Linked DNA regions of Homo sapiens: region 1 is linked to region 2. Evidence: fine-mapped expression QTL. A gene starts in region 2. The other region holds a variant in brackets. All regions are shown on one strand. Distances are from middle to middle. Region 1 overlaps MSL1 (MSL complex subunit 1). Region 2 holds the start of RAPGEFL1 (Rap guanine nucleotide exchange factor like 1).

Evidence for each region. PIP is the estimated chance that this variant, and not a neighbour inherited with it, causes the effect. A credible set is the group of variants that fine-mapping cannot tell apart.
Region 1: its variant is the best candidate, but not a certain one, in a credible set for the expression of RAPGEFL1 in whole blood (TOPMed, PIP 0.59).

The regions. Positions count from the first base shown.
Region 1 is chr17:40,124,464-40,126,963 of GRCh38, reverse strand. MSL1 (MSL complex subunit 1) reads right to left here. Exons shown (of 9, transcript NM_001365919.1): 2 at 558-781. Among named protein-coding and RNA genes, the nearest start is that of MSL1, 3.7 kb to the right of the region's middle. The variant C/T (reference allele first, on the strand shown) is at 1,510.
Region 2 is chr17:40,175,745-40,178,759 of GRCh38, reverse strand. It overlaps RAPGEFL1 (Rap guanine nucleotide exchange factor like 1), which reads right to left and starts at 1,290. Exons shown (of 15, transcript NM_016339.6): 1 at 379-1,290. The coding sequence starts at 898. RefSeq lists enhancers at 1-161, 162-1,018, 1,410-1,910, 1,911-2,411 and a silencer at 1,249-1,378.

The DNA.
Region 1 (2,500 bases), 52 kb after region 2:
ACTCAGCTGTCATACTTATTGCCCATTCTCTTTATGATGTAAGCTGCATTCAATAATTATTACTGTGACCAAAATACTCCTAAACAGACTTTTACAGTCTGCATAAGAATGTTTCAAGATAGTTTCTCAGCATAGAAGACTTCTTTTTTTTTTTTTTTTGACGGAGTCTCGCTCTGTTGCCAGGCTGGAGTGCAGTGGAGCAATCCCGGCTCACTGCAACCTCCGCCTCCCGGGTTCAAGTGATTCTCCTGCCTCAGCCTCCCGAGTAGCTGGGACTACAGGCGCCCGCCATCACGCCCGGCTAATTTTTTATATTTTTAGTAGAGACGGGGTTTCAAAATGTTGGCCAGGATGGTCTCTATCTCTTGACCTCATGATCCACCCGCCTTGGCCTCCCAAAGTGCTGGGATTACAGGTGTGAGCCACCACACCCGGCCCTCCGCATAGAAGACTTCTAAAGCAAGTTATGATTGCTATAAAACCAATTCATAAATCCCAATCTCCTACTCTCAATCACTGGTAACAAGGGTCCTCATCAAACAAAGTTATCAGCACACCTTTTATGTCCCTTTCCACTCCGCCCACATGAGAAGGGCTTGGGAGGCAGAGTCTGGGATGTCTCGGAAAGCTCCGGCTGGCACTCCAGTTTAATTTTCTCAGATAGCTCTGTTTCCTCTCTCTCTTCAGTTTCATAGCCCTGAAACAGCTTGTGCCTTTCTTTCTCGTTATCCTTCTTTACCAGCTGCATCCGCCTTTCCATACGTTCAATCCGAGCAAGGAGCTAAAAGAGAGAGTAGCAAAATGCAGACTTAACACATAAAAAATTAAACACACAGATACTTAGCCCCATTTAGGAATCAGTATAGTCTTCTGCCTCTTTCTATGGACCACATCAACTCAACTTTTTAAATAGGCAGACATTAATCTGAACAGTTTTCCTTAAACAAAATAGAGAAGAGAAGGTATACTGTTAAATTTTAAGGGCTAACCTAGATGGGAAGAGGCATGGGGTAATTTGTAGTTCATTCTTCTGTAGGGAGATCCTCTCCACTGGGAAGGGCCGTAACATGCCTTTTAATGGCATGGTCTCTGCTACTGCTACCTGTGTGGCTCCAAGTTGGTTCGGGAGTTTCCAGAATTAATTGTATACATGTTTTGTTTGTTTGTTTTTGTTTTTGTTTTGAGACGGAGTTTTGCTCTTGTTGCCCAGGCTGGATTGCAATGGCTCACTGCAACCTCCGCCTCCCTGCCTCAGCCTCCCGAGTAGCTGGTATTTCAGGCGCCCGCCACCACACCGGGTAATTTTTGTATTTTTAGTAGAGACAGGGTTTCACCATGTTGGCCAGGATGGTCTCTATCTCTTGACCTCGTGGTCCACCTGCGTAGGCCTCCCAAAGTGCTGGGATTACAGGCGTGAGCCACCGCGCCCAGCCTACATGATCTTTTAAGAGGCCCTGAGATTGTCCAAATTCTATCCTCTCTACTTCTACTCCAAAGCTCTATACACAA[C/T]AGCAAAGTGCAAACAGTACATTGAGAAGGAATTAAGAGCTCATACAGTGCCACCAGGAATGGCAGTGTTATTTGAAAGGGGTATGTGTGGGAGGGGGTACTTTTAAAACAATGAACATTTCATTTGGAAAATAGAAATCAGTACCCATAATTCCAACAATCATGACATAAACACATTCCTTTGAATTTGAGGTAACACAAAAAATTATACCTATTCATCTAAATATTTATTAAAATCAAAGTTCCTTTAGTTTTAGTTAAAAGGAAGGACTAAAAAACTAAACAGAAAATGGAACTCTATTAGTATTGAAAACTTTGTGTTAGTTTAGTTTTGAGAAAAGGTGTTGTGCTACTTATACTCTATTACAAGAATTTTATCTGGGTTAGACAGTGATGTTTAACGCTGCCTTCATTACATTCATTGCATAGATTTCAGACAAGGCCAAACAACAACTGGAATAAGTGAAACAAGCTTAAGCAATATTAAGATTGCAATACACAACAGAAGCAGTGAGTACCAAGTTCAGACTGACACTCTATCCTTAACTCACCCCACTTTTCCTGACTAGGAAAGCCTGCAAAGGGGCCATTACCTCAGGAACTGAGCAGAAACCTCCACAATCAGCAGAGAACCCCCCTATCAGCCATACTCTCATTTCATCTCCTTGTATATGTTTTGATTCACAGCCCTTAACCACCATTTGTGGGTGACATTTCCTTGATTTTTTTCTCCTTCACTGGTCCTTCTCTTCCCACTCCCCCCATACAAGGATATGATGTGTTGTAATTACGGTACCATCACACCCCTAGACTGCAGTACAGTCTGAGCAGTGCCACCTCCATGTTGAGTAACTTCCACAAATCAACACCATGAGATATTTTAATGAGACCTGCCCCAGCTCCCAATCCACCTTGCAGAATGCATTCTCCAATAAAACAGCCACCCGATGAGATTCATTTGGAAAGCAAACAAAATGAATAGCCGCTTGCT
Region 2 (3,015 bases):
GTGGCATGGCTGCGCTGGGCAGCTCCCATTTTAATGTGTCAGGCCCTAATTTGGGGCCACAGGAGGAGGTATTCAACATCAGGGACCCATGGGAGTCAGTGGCTCCAATGCCCAGGGGAAAGGAAGGGTGGCTGAAGGAGAGTAAGAGGCTCAGCTGCTTCTCCAGACGAGGGTGAGGCTGCTGTAGGGAGGAAGGTGAGTACTGCTCTCCTCTTCCGCGGGAGGGTCTGTACCTCCGCTAGGCCCCTAGCCGGCTTCCGCGGACCACTCAACCCTATAACCAAGCCCCGGCACGGCGCCACCCCTACGCTCCAAGGGCAAGGAAGAGGAGCCGGGGCCAGCCCCTGCTCTGGGTGTTCGAGCCCACCGGCTCCTTACCTGAGGCGGCGCTGTCCCTGGTAGCCCCTCCAGCAAGCCGCTCCAGAACCCGGTTCAGAAGATGCTCGGGCCGCTCGGGGGCGCCCAGAGGGGCCCAGGGCGGCGAAGTCAAGGGCTCGCCTGGGGACAGCTCGTCAGATGAGTAGGAGGAAGGGGAGCGCAGGGGCCCCCCTCCCCCGAGAGGCCCGGGCCCCGGCACCTCCTCCAGCTGCAGCCAGCAGGGCCCCCCGCTGCCCGGCTCCTCCGCGACCCCCGCCGGCTCTCCTCCTTCCTCCTCAGGGGGCGGCTCCAGCCCCGGCTCGGCGGGGGGCTCCCGGAGGAAAGCGGGGAGCAGCAGGCGAGACACGCTCTGACGCCGCTGCAACGACCGCTGTCCCCCGGCTGGACCGCCGCCCCCGCCGGGTCCCCCACCCCCTCCAGGCCCACCGCAGCTCCCCAGACCCCCGCCGGGACCTCCCGCCACCGTTCGGCCCGCCAGCTGCGACGTCTGCTTCTTCAGAAATTTCTCCAGCGGCTTCATGCCCCCCCCCGCCCCTCTCCTAGGGGTCGCCGGGGGACCCAGGTATCCCAGGCGCGGGCGGGGGGGGCGGCGAAGACACGATGCTCAGAGCTGGAGGAGCAGAGTAGAGGGCCGTGCCAGGCGCCAGACTGGGGGCCAGAGGGGCCGAGCCTCGCTGGCCAGAGTCCAGTGGCCAGTAGCCGGGGGAGGTGCCAGAGGAAAGGAGTGCTCGCTCTCAGCAACCCCCCATGCCGGCTGCAGCCGGCACGCGGCCCGAAGAGTGGGCAGGCTGCGGGGCCGGTGCGCCCGGCTCTGCGCTGCGGCGGCAGAGGCAGCGGGCGGAGCGCAAGGCTGAGAGGACGCGGCGGCGGCGGCGGCGGCGGCTGCGCTCCTGGCCGTGAAGAGGGGGAAGGTGGCAGAACCGAGACCGCGCCCCCTCCTCCAGTCCCCGCCCAGTCCCCGCCCCTACCCTTCCTCGGCTCGCCCCCGCGCCGCACGAGGCTTGAACTCGCGCGCTGGGGTTGACCGCGAGGGAAACAGTAAGGGACTTGGGTTCTAAGCAGAAGAAATTAAGGGCAAAGGTAAGTCAGAGATTTACCAATGGGGAAGGATTCCTGGCTCAAGGGATAACCGGGTCTCAGCATCATTTCAAAGAGTCAGGACAGGTCTGTGGCCTGGACACCTTCACTCACCTACCTGTGTACCCAAGTCAGGCCTACAGATTGCTGAACCCAAGAGTGTGCACCTTTCTCATACTCACAGAAATATGTGGAGTTTATCTTCCTTCTGTGAGAAGAGCTGGGAAGGCCTCTTGGGTGAATTAGCATTGCCACTGGAGGCGGTGCCCATCTGTCCTCTCTGGTAGGGCACAATAGGTGGTGTGGGCCTGGTCTGTGGGCAGGTACTGGCAGGCAGGTAGGAGCCAGGCAGGGAGCAGCAGGTTGTGGCAGGTCTAGCTGGGGTGAGGAGGGGATAATAGGCAGTGGGGAGGAGACCAGGAGCACAAGGGCACCTGAGCCCAGCTGGCAGCAGAAGGAAGCAGGGCCATGGAGACAGGTGACAAGCCCCAGAACTGCCGACTATCATCAAGCACAGAGCCCAAGTGTACATGGCCATGGAGTGGGAAAAGTGGTGCCAATTAGCACTCCAAGTAATCCTTACTCCTGATGCCCACACCAGGAGCATTCTGTCCTTAAGGATATGCTGCCCCAGAAGGAGTGTGGGGGAGGAGGGGGGTGCATCGTAAAGCCATGCTAAGTGTGAGAACATCCAGGTTAGACTTACAAGGTGTGGGAGTGGCAGCAGGTTCTCGATGGGTTGAGGCTCTCTGGACAATGCCCCACCCCTGTTTACCGAGCACCAACCAGGCAGAGACAGGAATGCTAATGGCTGGGAGTGGTAGTAAAACTGAACAGGGTGTGTATGACATACGTATCAATGTATGTGCATATCTGTTCCCATGTGTGCTAGAGCATGTGTTCACAGAAATAAAGCTTTGCACACCCATCTGTTTGTGGATTTGGAAACAGTAAAAAGAAGACAGCGCACAATTTTGGCTAAGAAGCTGTATTAGAGGTCTGAGTATCAGCTTCCTGTGCTCCCCTTATTGGACACTCCAATATCCCCTGGCTTGAAAGGGGAAAGTGGCTGGAATGGGTTGGAGCTCCCCAGGTAGCATTTTATGAACTGAATAGGAAGAGGGAAGGGCTTCTCTCCCAGCACATGCCACAGTTACCAGATTAAGCCGGTTGCCTTGGTAACCTTCTCTCTGGGCAGGATTTGGGAATTGTTGGTTAGGAAGGGCGAATTGGGGAGTGTGAAGGGTGTAGGGGGTTGAAAATAAAACAGACTGAGAGACTTCTGGAAGCTAGAAGCTTGGGACACAGGACCCCAGTACTCCCCCAAATGCTCAAGGATGTCAGGCAGAGACTAAGTTCAACATTTTGAATCAGTGAGGAGAGCCAGCATCAAGTCATGGTCCTCCTGGAGTGGCAGTGGTTTTCACCCTGACTACACACTGGAATCACAGGGAAGCTTCTCAGAAATACTGATGCTGGCTGGGCTTGGTGGCTCACGCCTGTAATCTCAACACTTTGGGAAGCCAAGGCGGGCAGATCACTTGAGGTCATGAGTTCAAG